Linked DNA regions of Homo sapiens: all the other regions are linked to region 3. Evidence: fine-mapped expression QTL. A gene starts in region 3. Each other region holds a variant in brackets. All regions are shown on one strand. Distances are between the middles of the regions. Region 1 holds the start of LOC124901315 (a long non-coding RNA gene). Region 2 overlaps KIF6 (kinesin family member 6). Region 3 holds the start of BTBD9 (BTB domain containing 9).

Region 1 (5,826 bases), 460 kb before region 3:
TGGCTTCTCCTCAGGAACGTGTCCACCCTGCCCCGGTAGCCCTCTGATGTCTGCCATCCTGTGTTCACACGGAAAGACAGTCTTCCAATTTAATCACGCAGTTTGATGCTACCCTACTATTTCCATATGGACAAATCACTCAAAATCAAGTTAAACTAGGAGGAAGCGGCTGACCCGTTGGCTCTTTCTAGAGCGCAGCTGATATGTCTTTGACACACCTGAAAGGAAACTCCCACGCCCTCACCCTCCTTTGATCAGGGTTGCAGGTTGGCGCCGAAGACCCAAGGACTGCAGTGCTGCTCACGTGCCATGCCGTCCTGGGGAGACTCCCAGGCTGATGCTGATGGCGACAGAGGCCGGAGCTCTGGGGACAGCGGAGGGGCAGGCAATGTTGTGCGCAGTTACCCAGGGCAGGCAGCACTGGAATGGAAATCACTAAGTAGGAGACGGAGCCACATCAAGCCACCATCGTCAAATGAGGTCCTTTTGATGAGGATTAGGAGAAAAGCTTCTTGGAACTGCTATTTTTCAGTCCCCAGTTGAGTACTGTGGTGTGGGGGAAGCACGGAGTCCCAGTTCTGCGTTCCTGACGCTGATGGGCAGGTGGCTGCCTCTCCAATGCTTCGATAAACACAACTGGAGGGGCAGCTAAGCCACGGCAGTCCCCGGCAGGTTTGGCCACGCCAGAACTCGGTATATGTTTATCTACATGGACTTCGGAACAGTGAATTAGCAGCGGGCATAGTAACTATTTCCTTGTCAGCCTCCCAAGCTTAAAGGCTGGATCCATGTCAGGAATGACAGGTGAGTAACTCAGCCACACGAGTGACTATTAACTCCAGTGTCCACAGGTTGATTTGCTTGTGTGCATTTGTGGCACTTCCTCTGTGGCCCAAGTGCCAGGATGAGCTGCATCCGTGTCTCATTTAGGAGACATGCACGATGGGTCTCTGTCCCCGCAAGCTGAACCGTTCAAAACCAAGGAAGGAAAATTATAGCATCAAAAGGGATTAAAACTAGTGATTTGCTGTTTGAGCATTTCAAATAGATCCGGAACACCTATGATTCACTGAGTGGAGAATAACTAAAACAAATAAAAAATCATTTAGTTGCCAGGGCAATGTATTCCAGCAGAATGAACACTCTATGGAGGCCCATTCCTAAAGGGTGCCTCCAGGTAGCAAAGGCCCAATGGCTTTCTCCTCCGCCTGAGTGTTTGCGTGCCATTTTTGTATTCCAACACAGGCCTGTCTATGACTTCCTCCTGTTCCCTGCGCCTGGGCTAGATTAGAGAGGTAGGGTGTTAATGGTGGACTTGATGAAGATTGAAGACCCATTTTCTCCCCCTTGAGACCTGCCTGATTTGGATAAATTGAGAAGAACAAAGCAGCCCCTTTCTGTCCTTGGGAGAAAACCTGTTCGGTGTCTGCTTTTGCAGCTAGGTCGGCTCCTCCCTGGAAAGGGGCAGAGGTGGGGGCAGTCAACAGAGACCCCTGCTCAGGGAGGAGACCGTTTCCTGCCGTTGCCCGAGCCCACCAAGTCACACCAGGCCCGCTGCCTCCTTTATTGGTGCTGCCGGTTGGGGGAGCGTGAGTTGGAGCCTGGGCTGGAGGGTAGTGAGCTGCCACTAGGCGCCCGCAGCGCATGGGAGTCGAGCTGCTGACCGGCCAGGCTGGTGTCCCCTGTCCCCGATTCCTCACTATTTTCCTCCTTCTGGCTGCTCTGCTGCTCTGGACACTCAAAGTGGACACAGTGGAACACCTGGGAGAGAAAAGGAAAAGACCCCATGAGTGAAGGGTCAGCATGCGGCCCTGGAGTTGCCGCAAGTTGGGATACTGCCCTGCCCAGCTTTGGGGGCCACCACGAGGGAGTTAGAGGAGGTCCTTCCCACTGCCCACGCCTGCCCCGGCGCAGACACCTGATGGCAACTAGCATGCTGTAAACACATTTTGATCAGTCAAGAGGAAAGGAAATGAGCCAGTGGCCCAAAAGTTAGAGACACCATGACACGGATTCCCACAAAATCTTCACACTGGATTACTCCGTTTTTGCCAACCTTTGTCTAATGGGCTCTTTTTTCTTTTTTAATTAATTTTTGTATTTGGCAGTTGGGTTAAAAGTCAACAGGAGTTGACTGGTGGTGGTGGTGGTGGTGGTTCGATTCTGTGAGGTTGTGGAAAGCAGGTCCACAGATAACGTCCACCATCTGTGTGGCATCTGCGTGGGTTGTCTCTGGGTATTCTGGTTTTCTCCCGCGTCCCAAAGCTGTGCACTTGAGGTTCATTGGTGTGTCTGCAGGGTCCCAGTCTGAGTGCATGTGAATGTGTGTGAGCGTGCCCTGCAATGGCATGGTGTCCTGTCCTGAGCTGGTTCCTGATGCATAGTTCTCCTGGCCCTGCAATGGTTGAGCACAGACCCTGCTAAGCAGCCGTGCTGGGGAGTGGACTTCAACCTCATGTGGCTCCAGCCAGCCTGGAACAAACGCCCCCAATGTGTAGAAGCCAGCCACCTGGCCGACAGTCACCCTCTAGGAGCTAAGAAGAGTTTGCATACCTGACAGCAGGTCAGCCTGGAAGCACCATGAACTCTGTGCCAACACCGTGCCAGCACTGTGCAGACAGGGCACAGCACCGAGCTCAGCGCCCCGCAAGCAAGGGTAAGCCATGGCCCTGACCTGGAGAGTAGACAACGTGCTTCGGGGGGTCCTGACATGCATGTGTGAGCTGTGGGGTGCAGGAGAGAAGGGCGGGGTGGGGGCTGTCGTTGCCACTGCACGAGCATGTGTGCACATACATACACACG[G/C]CCTTCTACCGTAGAATCAAGTTCACAGAGACAAATGTAGTATCAACTGCAGAATTATATTGAAAATATAAATTCCACGCTTACCTCCCTGCATCACTGTTTTTTCCATATTCCCACTTCAATTCATTTATTGACCACTGTTTTAAATTTCACATTTTCTCATATGAAGACTGAGACCGTGTCTTCCTGGTGTGTCCACTCTGTTTTGGGAGCTGCCATTTTCTCTTAGAGGGAGCTGATTTCTCTCCTTATAGGGCAGGGGCTCAGGCACGGTCCTCGCCTCCTGCAGACCCCTCACTGCCTCACGGCTGAAGCTGTCCCCACTTAGCCTATGTCTCCCTCCTTTTCCTTTCTTTCCTTCCTTCCTTTTTTATAAAATCTCCTTCTGTGGGTCCATCTGCAGGGCTTACCAGTCAACAACTGGAGGGGCTAGGTCCTAGGGGAAGGCCTTATGTGGAGATCTGAACACTATTTGGGCCATCAGCTCTGCCCTGGGCTAGGCCAGGGGAATCTGAGAATCATCCTCTAGGTGACAACCATTAATCCACTCCTTCATCAGCTTCACAATCTTGCAGCTCTTCAGTAACAACACCGCCCTGGGCATGTCGGCCACTCATGGGTCACTTGCCTTATAAGTGTTCCTTCTTCCACACCCAGGGATAGGTGAGGTCAGGCTCTGCGGGGCCAGGACACGCCTTGAGAGTGCAGTCCCGGTCCTCAACACCCCCCCCACTAAAGCTTCTCATAACCCAGCAAATACGCCTTCTCTTTTGCAGTATGACCCAGAGCCATATTCTGTTCCCACGCCCACACGCAGGACTTTTCAGGACAGGCTGTGTTTTACTGCTCCTTCCCCCTGCTGACACAGGAGCTCTTTATCCGGCCCCACCATGTTCTTTAATTGGTTATTTGTGTAATCCCTGCTCTCCCTGCTCGGTCAATATCTCCGGAGGCCGCTCCCCAGAGCCTCAGGCTGACACTAATCCTGGAATTGACTTACGTTTGTCCTACTCCTTATTACCTTTTCTCAAGCTCACTCCTCTGGTATTGAATGGTTTTTCTCTCCTTTTGCTCTTGCAACGTTCTCTACAGTCCTGTTAATTTCCAGGCCAGCTCTTCCCCCACCGGCCCCGCAAGCCTTCAGGGTGCCTCCCGCTCCGTGGCCCACCCCGCTGCCTGCCTCCTTCTACTGATCTGTCAGCTCCGATCTGACTCAAGGACCAAGGCTTAGTCGTCCTTCTACCTGCTCGGGTTCTTGCACAAGAATAAACAAATCGATAAAAACCCTGGATTGAGAGATAAAGTTAAAAAAGACCTCAGAGTGGCCTGGTGCTGCGGCTTGCTCTTCACAGCCGGCCTCTCACTGGAGGAGGGATCAGGGCGGGTCTCTGCTCCGCACTGCGCTGGTAAGAGCCTGGGAAGAGATGCTGTCTGTGGTGAGCACGTGATAGACATTCCACGACCCGACCTGTCGGTGCCCTGGTTCTCATTGTTTCTTCTCATTTCCAGCTGCATTTATCTCTTGTCTAACTTGGGCAGTGTTAAGGGCACAACTGTGTTTAGCCCATTAGCCAATTTGTTTTCAGATAATAATGCAAATGGCTGTTACTCCCAACACACCTAACAAGACTGACAGCCAATCTCAACTGCTTCTGTGTTTTCCTATGGATATTTCTTCTAAAGAACTCCTAACTATCTCTCTCCCTGATGCCACAGAGCTCACGGCAGGCCCTGCCATCAAGTTAGGGGACCCTGGAAGCCCCTGGAAGCCCTAGGCCGTAACTGCCTGACTGAGCTCCCTGTGGCTCTGCAAGGAACTGGGGCCATCTCAGAGCTGCGTCCCAGTCTGTGGCCCCAGAATCCCAACTAAATGAAGTGCAGTCTCCCTGAGCATCTCCACCAAGCCACGCAGGTGCTGCCAGATTCAAAGGCAATACACAGGCAGGAGTGAGTTACCTGTATTAAATCACAAACTGTGTGGCGAAGATTCTAAGTGGAAAAGAGTGTTTTTACAAATGGATAGGCGGGTGAAGACACAGAACCTGCCATGGGTGGGGGTGGGCAAGCTACAGGTGACAGGTGGGGAGGGAACAGCCTCTGCACACCAACAGAGACAGGATGAACATCACATATGCAGCAGACACGGCCAGAGGATGACGCTGCACACGTGAGCAGGGTCAGGAGGTACACACGTACCACAAGCATGAAGCACCTCCTACGTGCCTGACTGGGCGAGGTCCCAGCTGCCCTCAGAGGGTGTACGGTCCAGTGAGGCCAGCAGACACATAAGCCAGGGAGAAGGAGCCCCAGGGCATAGAGGAGTGGGACCCAGCCAGGCAGGCGGTCAGGGAAGGCTTCCTGGGGGAGGAGACATCTGAGGTGAGTCTGGAAGGAAGAGGCAGCCAAGCTAGAGAGGATGGAGGAGGGGGGGACTTGGTGTGGAAGAAAAACAGGAAGAACTACACAGGTTCTCAAGCCAAAGGGTGGCAACAGAGCAAGGAGGGCCTGGGAGCAGCAGGGTGTGGGGGGGAGGGGTGGGGCAGAGGCCACACCCAATGGGACAGGGCGAGGGCCTGGCCTTAAGCTGGGCAGGGATCCTGATACTCTTGGACAAAGGAGGCTATTTATTTATTTATTTATTTATTTATGAGACAGAGTCTCGCTCTGTCGCCAGGCTGGGGTGCAGGGGGGCTATCTCAGCTCACTGCAACCTCCGCCTCCCAGGTTCAAGCGATTCTCCTGCCTCAGCCTCCTAAGTAGCTGAGACTACAGGCACGTGCCACCACACCCAGCTAATTTTTGTGTTTTTAGTAGAGATGGGGTTTCACCATGTTGGCCAGGATGGTCTTGATCTCTTGACCTCATGATCCGCCCACCTCAGCCTCCCAAAGAGCTGGGATTACAGGCGTGAGCTACCATGCCCAGCCTACGAGACTCTTTAAAAACTAATATTTCTTAAACTAAAAAAGTTATTTAAAAAGGAATATACATTTGTGGTGACAAATTCAAATAACAAGTATTTTA
Region 2 (5,923 bases), 910 kb after region 3:
ATCATTTGAGTTTCACCCACGCACCAGCCACAGATTCTGGGCCATGGTGAGTCTGTGGTCAGCCTGTTGTCTGGTCAGCTTGCTAAAGATAACCAGCTAACTTACTGGCTCAGGGCTAACACAAAGAGAACACAACAGAGGAGCCAAAAAATATATTTTAAAAAATTAATGTTAAAAGATGGTGTAAAAAGGCTCATACTTTGAAATAAACTAAAATGTTCCCTGCAAGAGTAACTATGTCAGGATAAAAACAAACACATTTTTTTCTTTTATAGAAACTCTTTTTCACTGGTTGCAATACTTTGCTGAAGGGACCTTTGACTTCTCAATGGAAAGAAGCAATGTGAAATGGAAGCTGGGTGGGGAGCTCAGCCATGTGGCTCAGGAAAGACTGCTGTTTACCCCTTTCAAACCAGGATAGAGGAAGTTTCTTCATCACTTCAGAAAGGATACTGATTTCGTTATCTCTCTGTTTCAGAATATCTCGTAGCTTTCTATATTCTTCTTCTTTTAATGGTTCTTGACAATCTTGGTCTTTGCTTTCAGAGGAGACTGTATTGTTTTCAAGGATCTTCTTGTCATTCAATAGTTTCTGTAAGATAAAATAAGAGCTTAGTACCCATATCTCTAGTCCAAATTTCTTTGTTTCTTTGACTCTTTTTCCTTTAACAATTCCCTGCACACATCAGGCATGTGTGACCTGTCTGATGCAGGTGCGATGTCTTTGCGATGCAGTTGCTTTTTTGGCTTGGCATGTTTTCTCCCTTCTACCTGCCTTCTTTCCCCTCCTCCTTCCTCAACCCTCTCTCCCCATCTTATCTCTCCTTCCCTAAATTGGGAAATGCCTACTCAACATTATCTCTTCTTGGACTCCTTTCCCTTTCTCTATACATCATTCCACTTAATTTACACTTTTATTCTAGTACTTATCATGTATTGTGATTATTCTTTACAACATCTGTCATCTCCATGACTTGCTTATTAAACTTTGTCTTATCTATACCTGGCCCTTAGTAACTCACAACAAATGTTTATTATCTTAAAGAAGTATGCAAAAATACAAGTGAGCTAAAAGTAAAAGTGATTATATTCCCAGCCCCTTGTCATGAAAATTAAAACCTAAGGCAGAGAAAAACTGAAATATCATATGGGTATATCAAACTGCTGAAAAAATACAGAATGCAATTCTCTTGATATAGCTTGAAAATAGTTTTTTAAAAAATATGGAACTATTCTGTGTAGAAGGTAGAGATTCCTGACAAAAGAATTAGAAGTCCATGGCCTGAGTTTATTTATTGGCAAGTAAGATACAATCTCTGAAGAAACTCAGTGATAATCATACTATTGATTCAAAGATCGTACCATTTTCTGGACATGCAATGCTGGATCCTAACCTTCCAAGAACTGGTCAACTAGAAAAGTTTTTTTGCAGCTTGAACATGGCTGAAAATGGCTTCTATTGGGGAAACATTTAAGTTTACCTTTAAATGATGAAAACAGTGATGAACTTTACGCATATCCGCGCCAACCTCTAATCTACTGTCTGAATCCTGGTCTTCCAAAAAGGATGTTATTAGTTTTTCCAGCCTAAAAATACATAATGTATGAGAAGCAACTGTGAGCTAGAAGCTTTAAAAATTCTAATGGCATTATCTAGTTGGTTAACATTTGAAGTACAGAATATTGTTCCCACCTCTTTACAGAAGTACAGATTTGAGTATAAAAATTAAGGGAAAAGAAACATTGACAAAGTGAAATTTATAGTGAAGCCATTATTTGACTAATTTCCAGTGAATTTTCTTATGAAGCTTTCAATATAGAAATCATTTGATTTCTATGGTCCATCCATTCTAGCCACTCTGAATTTCTATGCCCCTGTGCCTGGCTGCTGCATTGCTAGAAAAAGTAATGAGAATGTATTTTAAATTAATTTCACTAAAAATGCATGTGACTCCGCTTCAGCTGGCACCTCAGTGATACCCCACTATTTTTTTAATCATTCCAGGTGATCTTCTATTCTTCACAGTGCCTATTCCAAATCTTTCTACAGCCCCCAAGCCTGCCACTACTCTTTCACTCTCTGTCAATAAAGTCACTTCTTTATTGGTGAAAGCCATGCAGACTCCTTTGTTTCCTCCTCCTTTGCCTCAGAGTGTCTCTGCCTCACTGCTCAGGCCCTCTTCCTGCTTTTATAGATTGTGGATATTCTTCCTCTTTCTGAAGGCCAGTTTCTCCCCTGGGCTCTCTCTCTGCTTCTTCCAGGGCTTATCTAGTTAATTACCTCTTTTCCCTTAATCATCTCTTTATCTCCTCTCTATACTGACTCCTTCCTCTTTGCTTACAATCATGTTGTTTTTCCTATCCTAAAACAAAATGAAATAGAAAACAAAACACCTCCCTTTGGAGGGACCATCCAACCACTCTATTCTAAAGTCCTAGTTTGGCCGGGTACAGTGGCTCACACTTGTAATCCCAGCACTTTGGGAGGCCCAGGTGGGCGGATCACTTGAGGTCAGGAGTTCAAGACCAGCCTGACCAACAGAGTGAAACCCCTTCTCTTCTAAAAACACAAAAACTAGCCAGGCAAATTGGCATGTGCCTGTAATCCTATCTACTTAGGAGGCTGAGGCAGGAGAATCACTTGAACCCAGGAGGCAGAGGTTGCAGTGGGTTGAGATTGTGCCACTGCACTCCAGCCTGGGCAAAAGAACAAGACCCTGTCTCAAAAAAAAAAAAAAAAAAAGTCCTAGTTTATTCATAGCACCACGTGCCAATGTAGCATTCTAGTACTTTGTATCAGAGGGAAATTCTTGGCTCTTATTTATCTTTGTTCTTCCCGTCCCCCTAACATTAGGTTCTCAACACAAATATGTTCACTAGTTACTGGATTCACTGCCATGGACATGGTTCCCCTCTAGGTTGAGATGGAACTCTTAATAAGGAAGGTTTAAGGATGACAATCAGTATCTATGATGTTATGTATCATAATACAGCAGCAGCATATCTTTCTAGTACTATTATGAAAATATTTGCATACTTTCAGCATCTTTTAAAACTGTATCTACACATTTCTCTTCTGCTGTTACTATCAGCCCACCCAGATAAAATGTAATGATTTCTATCATAGAACAGCCTTGGATTTCATTTGTACCTCTTGTAATTTGTGACATGTGACAGCTATATATTTACAAGTGTGAGACAATTTATACCGTTACTTTTAAGGAGTTTCTTTAGGTGAAGAGATACTTATTTGCACTATTTGCTGATTGACAGTGTGTTTCCTTTTGGATTAGAGCTTCAAACCATCAGATATACAGAGGGATTTATTCCTGATACATTTTT[T/A]AAAAAATCATGTAAATTATTATGAAAACACATGTTTATGAACAAAATTCCAAACAATGCAGATGTGAATATATTAAAAAGTGAAAACTCCTCCCACTCCCCTGCCACCATTCCCCTCCACCTTTTTTTAAAAAAATTTGATACCTTGGGAAATCCACTGTTAACAGTTAAAATATATTATTCTTATTCTTAATGAAGCAGATACCTATATTTATATATTCATTTATACATTTTGGTTTGTTGTTTTTACAAAAATGAGATCATAGTCTGAATAATGCTTTACATCATTATATTTCTAAAGCATTTATGGCAGATGAGCTTTTCCATCAGTGCATACACAGTAAAGGTATTTCATTTCTAATGGCTATATAATATTCCATACTATGGATGTACTACTATTCCTCTCTTGATGGACACTGAGGTGACATACTCATACAGTTGCTACTTTCCTCTGTAACCCATGATGAGACCTTGATCTACAAACCTGACTTAATGAGGTTTAAAAAATAGTAATGTTTAGCTACTTGTATTTTCCCTGAATACATAGCAGAAATTTTGAAATTTCAAAAATCACTGTGGGTTCTAGAATATACACTCGTTTTCTGGAGTGAAAGCACTTTGTGATTTCCAGAGTCCATAAAATTTCTAGCAGACAATATTAAGTTGGAAGTAATGGTTAATCAATTCTTTCTTCTTGCTTTTTCTTTAGAAAACAACTTTTGAATAGTTTAATCACAAGTACATATTCTAGGAAACGTTCTCTGAAGGAAGGCTGAAGTGGACTCCTAGCTCAGAAGGAAACCTCGTAAGATACAAGCCTGCTGATGAGCTGGACCACTCACAGATTGCTCACGTGCACTGGGCTTTGGTATTCCATCAAGGCTCCTCTCCCACACAGCAACACTGTAGAATACAAGGAGGACCAGGGACATGATCCAAAGAAATGGGCAAGAACTTCTGCCTGAGTAAAAGAACTGATCGCTTTACTCTTTCTGGGACTTGATTAGTCTAGTACATAACTAAGAATGAAGATCAGCCTTTTGACATGCTATTTTGCTTTCAGCACTTGAGAACACAAAGAAACATGCCTGGTCTTTCCTTCATACATTTGATTTACTGTTGGGTTTATTTCCTTATCAGGCAAGGACTTGGTCTAATAATTAAAATGCAGAAAAATGCTTAATTCAGATGTTTTCGTTGTACTCCTCTAGTAGTTGAGAGTGAACAAATGAACCCAAATTCCCCACATTTTCCTATCTACCAAAATAGTGTCCAAGTTTATACCTAGTCCCTGCTCCCTCTAAGGGGTCTCCCAGCTGCCAGAACTCTGCTGAACAGTGGAAAACTGTTTGCAGAAAAGTCTCGCTAAGGAGGTCAAGTGAGTACAATAAAGTCTATTTTTTAGGACAAGCCCAAGTCAACAAGAGCTTTCCTTATTCTCTACTTACACTAGAAGAAAAGAAGGAAGAAAAAAGAATCCTAGGGGAAAGAGAAAAGAAATACACACCATTCAGTAACAAGAAATATTGTAATAATTTAGTGTGTCTGAACACATGACTTCGCTGATGGTAGGTGATGGTTTGATGTCTGGTGACTATACAGATCTCAGCCAAATTGACTGCTAATGAAATACCTCTGACAGCCTGTGTCCTGGTTCAGCAACTCCATCATATTAGAAATTTTGATATATGGCCACATAATTAGAACTGACCATATTTCCTAACATGTGCTTTACCTTCTTGAGGCCACTGCACTCCCCTCTCTGCTCCTTATATTCCTTGTACAAAAAAAAAAAGCTCTCTCTGTAGCCATATGTCCCTAAAAATTTAGGTTTAATAGCATGAATAAAAAGACAAAGCAAGCTTCTCATCATTAATGACAGCCAACATTGAGCATGCACTAAATGCTGGACACTCTTCTGTGCTATTTGCATATATCATTTCCTTAATTTTTACAACAACCCATGAGAAAAGTGCTATTATTATCCCCATGTCATAGGTGAGGAAACTGAAGCACAGAGATATTACGTATCTTGTCCAAGCTCACACAGCAAGCACACAGGTAAAATCCAAGTTTTGAAGCACAATACTTACCATACTATAACAAAGTTACTCAAAGTATTTGAATACCATATTGGGTGATGTATTTCTAAAAGGGAGAACCCACACCTGCAAGCATTCATTGAGGAGGCAAATAGGTGGACGAAGAAGTGGGAAATAACTGAAAAGCAGTTGCTTAGATCTTAGCAAGGCCACGGACCCCCATGACTTGTAACGGCAAAAAAAGTTGGGAAGGAATCAGAATGTGCTGTATTTGAAGATTACTTAAATTAATTATGGCATAGCTATGTACATAGTTAAGCAGCAATTTAAGTGACGGCAAAGTGTTGTACTTATTGACATTAAAAACACTCATACTATATATGGATAGCTTAATGATGAATCCCTCTGCAGGGATTCTGCAAGTACACTGTAACACACATAAGAAGACTGAAGAGACAAAAAGGAAGGAAAGGCATGAGGGAAGGGAGAGAGGGAGGGAGGGGAGCAGATCAGCAGTCCCGAAATTTTTGGCCAGCTAG
Region 3 (5,923 bases):
TCCACCTCTACATGTGGCGAAATTTTATTTAACCCTCAGAGCTAAGCTCCATCCCCTTCTTCTCAACATGTTCCCTATCAGTTTTTTCTCCAGCCAAAGCACTCTACTCCCCCAGCACATTATTCATTCCAAAAGTGATTAATTTGTCACAGCACATAATGGTTAGTGGTTTATCTCTTCTGATGAACACTTAGTATGCTGAGCATATACTGTGTCTTAACTTCTTTGTCTTCCCAGCACCCAACGAAGTGTCTCGCCATAGCCAGCACCCAGTAAGTATCTGCTGAGTTGTTAAATAATGCAACATTTGCAGTTGTAACTTTACACATCTTGGTTAGCAATTCAACTTCAGGTTTACATACCACTCAAAAGAATTTTCACATAACAGAAGATGTTATAAATAAAGACCAAGGGTTCAATATTCAGCAGCAGGGTCTTTAATTATTCTGAAATCTCTTTGGTCAGTATTTTTAAGCATCGTTCATCAGAAAGACTCCTTTCCCAACTAACATTTGTATATTTTACAGGATCAGCAGTAAAGACAAACCTCAGAGAGATAATCCCAAGCAAAACTATGTCACTGAGTGTGACTGGATGACTATTGGTACATCATTTCAGTAAATTTCCAATACAATGGCCCAAGTACATCAGGTAGATTTTAGATAATGAGACATGCACCACTGACTACCTAAAATACATGCACATTAGTGAGGCATCGATTCCAATTAGTAATTGAAATCAAAAGTATATTAACAACCTGATATTGGTTCAAGCGTAATATCCTTTACTTTCAAGTAAGGATAACACTTATTCTTGTCAAAGACTGTACTCTGATTAATACAACCTCTATCCCACCTTACAAGAAGGCTGTATCTTGTTAACAGTGGGATGCTGATAAGCCCGCCTTAATCCTTAACACTTTGCCTTCCCAACCTGCTAAGCCATCTCTCTCCAGTATTCCCCTATAAGAGACGTTCCGCTCCAGTTACCAGACATAAAAGTCGTCTTGGTATATCCTCCAACAACCAAATTCACATTATTATTTTCTCAGCTCCTGGTTTATTTCCTAACAAATTTTAACTTCTTTCAGAGACCAAGTCAAATCTTGCCTCTTTCAAAGAGTTCCCTAACTCAGCCTACACATCCTATCTTTTCTGATTTTCTACCACATTTATAGTCCTCAAACAGCACTGGTTACCTGCTACTTAACTTGGTTTTATAATTATTTTATACATCTCCTAGCTAGACTACTGCTCTCAAAGGGAAAAAAAAGACAGGTCTTCTATGTCATTTTTCACTCCATAATCCTCCTCCCACACCTATCATGATACTGGGCAGAGGGAGGCACATGTATTAAGTACTTGATGGACTGAACTCAATGCTTTCTATACATAGATACACCACTTGAGCATAGTGTGCTATATAACAAATATCCATTGCATGCCTACTCTGTGGCAAGCACATTTTTCCTATGTGTTAGACATAGGGCAAGGAGGAAAACACAGATGACTCCTGTCCTAAAAGCTATTACAGTGGAGGGAGGAAGACACTTTGAATTCCGAGTAATCTAATAAGTGTTACAAAGCAAGGTTATTACTGGTTCCAAGAGGTAACATACTTTACAGATTCTCAGTTATGAAACAGAATCATAGAATTTTAGACCTAAATGAGAACCTTGAACTTATTTTCCTCTATCCTCTTACACAAAACATTAGATTTCAGTACAGCCTATCTTTTCACTGGTTCTACAAATTGCCTTAATCAACAGAAAGAAAAGACTGGCTTCTTCCCTGTCTCCAATATTCCTCGCTCCCAAGTATGGTAACCACAACCCCTATACATCTACCCATGATAGAGTCCAGAGCACTGAGAAGACAGCACAGGGCTGAGGATGAGCTACACCTTTACATGCTGGGTTCTCCCATCATCAACACTTTCCGCCCACACAGTGAACAGAATCCGTATTTTCTGCCCAGAAAATAGCAGCCTGTACTGCCTTTAGGAAAAACAAACAAAACATGCTTCCATACTTCCTTGGATCTACTAATGACAAAAGCACAACACGGTTCTGGGAAATATAGCAAGATAACTAAGTCTATGAGGAAGTAAGAAATGAGGATGCCTATCAGCACCTTGGTCTCAAAATCTGTAACAACAATGTACTAAAACGCCAAGGAAACACATGCACATACATGTGAAGTTAGAAACTCTAGGCAACAGGTTGGCTGCCCCGGATCTATACTGACAGGTCGCCCTCCCAAGGTCGTGGGTGTGTCTGATGCCGCACGCAGGCACTGATTCACAACTCTCTCCATAACAACCAGCTCCTACTCAGAGGCTGGCCAGGGCAGGGGAGATGAGGGCCCCAGCAGTCCCAAACTTTCCAAACCCCCACCCCGGGGTCCCGGGTTTCGCCTCCTCAGTCCCAGGCAACGTCGTCTCAGACAGGATACGAGACTGCTAGGGAACCTGGGCTGCCCCTGATTCGAACTCCTCTCTTTGGGAGGCTGGTAGAGCCACCCCGAATCCCCGAAACGTCTACTTCCCACTACACCTTCGTGGACTGCGAACGGGACGGCTACCGCTCTCCCAGAGCACCCGGGCCCAAGAAATGACCCTCGTCAGGCCCCGTCCCAGCTCCTCCCCCGCCCCCGGAAAAAGCGGCGGAGGGGCGGGGGGCGGTGCGCGCGGATACGGCGGGGGCGCGCGTCCCCGCGCCGCAGGTGCGGCCAGGCCCCACCTCCCCTGCAAGGACCCGGCTACTCACCCCAGCGATGCTCCTCTGAGACCAAGCTGCGACACAGACGCCTCTTCCGCCCGCTCCGCACCCCTCTCTGCGCCACCGCCCCCTTGGCCGCTTCCGTGGCCGCCGTCCTCGCCGCCGCCCCGGCTGCTGCGGCGCGCGTCCGCTTTCACGCACTCCGCCGTGGCCGCGCACGCGCCACTGCGCGCTGGCGTCACTTAGCAACCGATCGACAGCGGGCTGCTGGGTCCGGCGATGCAGGCCCAGAAAGTCGCCTAAGGCAGCTTCCGCGGCTTTTTCGCATCGGCCCGACCCTCTGCCCCTCCAGAACAGGGGGCCCCAGGGTGTGGCTGCCCTGCCGGCACCTGGCTCCGGGTAAGTCGAGTCACCACACGTCACTGTATGGCGTCACCGGCGCACGTCACTACGGATGAGAAGGTCCTGGGCGCCTGTGGAGTGACCTCGTCCAGACCGCCGCAGACCCGATCGGCAAGTTCTTGGAGGTGCAGGAAGGTTCTCCAAGGAGTAGGACCAGAAAGGGATGAGAGCGCGAGCGCGGTTAATGTCGAGGCTGCTAAGTGATGCTCGTTAATTTCGCAGCAGGGTGTGACTGGCCCAGCCTTGACTCTCAGTTTCCTCTCTCAGTAAATGGGCATAATAATACCGGTCCAGCCTACGCTGGAGAATTGTGAGGTGAAAATGAAATAAGGTATGCAAAGGTACTTTGTAAGTATAAAGCCCATTTGACTTGGTGGCTCAAGCCTGTAATCCCAGCACTTTGGGAGGCCGAGGTGGGCGGATCGCTTGAGCTCAGGAGTTCGACACCAGCCTGGGTAACATAGTGAAACCCCGTCTCTACAAAAAAGACAAAAACTAAATGGGCATGTTGGCGCGCGCCTGTAGTCACAAATGCTCGGGGGGCTGAGGTGGGAGGATCGCTTGAACCTGGGGAGTTCAAGATTGCAGTGAACCGTGATCGCGCCGCTGCACTCCAGCCTCTGCAGTGAGAGCAAGACACTGTCTCAAAAAAATGTATTTATCTATCTACATAGATAAGAGTCCTAGAAATCCGGGTGCAGGTCTGACTGTAGCTGGTGTAGGAAAGTCAGTTATCCCCGACGCTGGAGCAAGCTAGGGGACCGCCCTTGCAGTTGTTGGAGGAGACAAATTGGGAAGGACTTAATTCCGGGCAAAGGAAGCTTCATGAGTAAAAGTAGAAAGTGAAAATGGTCAGGAAAAGCAAGGCTTGGGGCAGGGAGACCCATTTTTAGGCCATTGCAGTACTCCAGACAAGTGATAAGAACATTAAACAAGGCATTGGCAGTGGGAATAGAGGAGGGGATAGATGTTAGCGCCATTAAGGTGGTAGAATTCACAGCACTGAGTGCGGATAAATGAGTAGGCCAGGTTTCTAGCATGAGTGCTGAGGTAGACAGTGGTAACATTTAGCAAGATGGCAAGCTACATGAGTCTTGATTATCCACAAGTGTCTAAGTTACTATTATAGATAGTGATGGTGACATTTCTTAGGAGGATGACCAGATATGTGGAGTATGATGATGAGTTCAAATATGGATATGTTTGTTAGGGAAACATTTACTCTCCATTCACAATGTCTTTCTTCCATATGGAATGATATCCATTAGTGTAATACTCTCCTGGTTTCTCTTATACCTGTCTGCAACTCACTCTTGCCTAGAGGAGTGACTTCCTGATTGGTGAACTTAAATGGGAGAAACTGGACATGTGGCATCTATCCCATTCTTTTTCTCTTAAAAGATAACTATCTTCAGGGAACTGTCCTGGTGTTCTTTTCCGTTTCTTCTGGAGCAGGGCCTGTGGGTAGGGACAAGGGTGCCTAGTCCAGGGCTACAAAGAGAGTATATGTATTTAATTCCAGAGTTTGGCATTAGGAAGCTGTCTGTCCACAGATAATATTTAATACCAGCTTTGTCAGCTGTGTTACACAGAATAATGATCCCCCCCAACCAAAAAAAAAAGGATGACCACACCCTAATACTCAGAACCCATGAATATGTTATATTATGTGGCAAAAGGGACTTTGCAGATATGATTAAATGATGTATCTAGGGAGATTATCCTGGATTGTCTGACTGGGCTGGAGGCAGGAGGGTCAGAGTCAGAGAAGGAGATGTGATGATGGAAGCAGAGGTCAGACAGAGATTTGAAGATGCTATACTGTTGGCTTTGAAGATGGACCCAAGAAACGCAAGCAAATTGTAGATGCGGGAGAAGGCAAGGAAATGGATTCTTCTCTAGCACCCTAAGAACACAGCCCTGCCAACACCTTGATTTTAGGACTTCTGACTTCTAGAACTGCGAGATAAGAAACTTGTATGTTTTAAGGTACCAAGTTTGTGCTAACTTGTTACAACAGCAATAGGAAACTGATACAGTCAGTAATAAAGATAATAGTTGGTTTCCTGCAGCTTTCTCCATTACCTGGAAAAGAAGGGTACAATTCAGTAGGTCCCCTCAGAGACTATAGCAATATGACTGTGACCTGATGGAACCTCCACATCTAGAGAAAAATGTCCAATAAACACTCAAACTGTACAGGTCTATGAATGAGGAAAGAGGTTGAGTTAAAATAGATTTGGAAGAAATAAATTAATAATTGGTAATTTAAGCCCGAGGCATGGATGAGATCAATCAGGGAGAAAATACAGAAGACATAATAAGGAGAGGCAAGGATAGGGCCCCTGGAGAGCACTAACTTTAAAAGGAGGTGCAGATGATCAGAAGCCCAAAAAGAAGTCTGAGGAAGAATGGCCAGAGAGAGAAAAGGAGAACTAGGTGAGCCTAATGCCTCTGAAGCCAAGCAAGCAAGATGGAGAGGGGTCAACAGAGTCAGAGACCACAAAAAGGCCAAGTATATCAAGAACTGGAAAGCATTCACTGGATTTAGCAACAGAAAAGTGATTGGTAACCAACAATAGCAAACTTCAGTGGGATAGTGGAGATAGATACCAAATCACTGAGATCTGAAAGGCAGATCAATATAGTGGATTGGCCTCTAGACTAGTTTGATGGGAGTTTTGAGATTCTAGTCTTGATTCTGGCCATTAACTAGCTAGATAACTTTGAACAAATCCCTCAACTACTCCAGGCTTTGGTTTTCGCATCTGGCAAAGGATGAGATCAAGCTGAGTCTATGAT

What was found.
Region 1: its variant is fine-mapped to the expression of BTBD9 in testis (GTEx, PIP above 0.99). The same link has a PIP of 0.9 or more in T cells, aorta, caudate, cerebral cortex, iPS cells and nucleus accumbens.
Region 2: its variant is fine-mapped to the expression of BTBD9 in caudate (GTEx, PIP 0.98).

What each region holds. Positions count from the first base shown.
Region 1 is chr6:38,173,422-38,179,247 of GRCh38, forward strand. It overlaps BTBD9 (BTB domain containing 9), which reads right to left. Exons shown (of 11, transcript NM_001099272.2): 11 at 1-1,761. The coding sequence ends at 1,564. LOC124901315 (a long non-coding RNA gene) reads left to right here and starts at 1,757. Exons shown (of 2, transcript XR_007059571.1): 1 at 1,757-2,656; 2 at 3,895-5,826. The variant G/C (reference allele first, on the strand shown) is at 2,803.
Region 2 is chr6:39,544,102-39,550,024 of GRCh38, forward strand. It overlaps KIF6 (kinesin family member 6), which reads right to left. Exons shown (of 23, transcript NM_145027.6): 11 at 1,482-1,587; 12 at 454-592. Among named protein-coding and RNA genes, the nearest start is that of KIF6, 180 kb to the right of the region's middle. The variant T/A (reference allele first, on the strand shown) is at 3,343.
Region 3 is chr6:38,637,033-38,642,955 of GRCh38, forward strand. BTBD9 (BTB domain containing 9) reads right to left here and starts at 2,897. Exons shown (of 11, transcript NM_001099272.2): 1 at 2,768-2,897. LOC105375044 (a long non-coding RNA gene) reads left to right here and starts at 3,363. Exons shown (of 3, transcript XR_926767.4): 1 at 3,363-3,452. RefSeq lists a silencer at 2,560-2,759 and enhancers at 2,859-3,359, 3,160-3,239.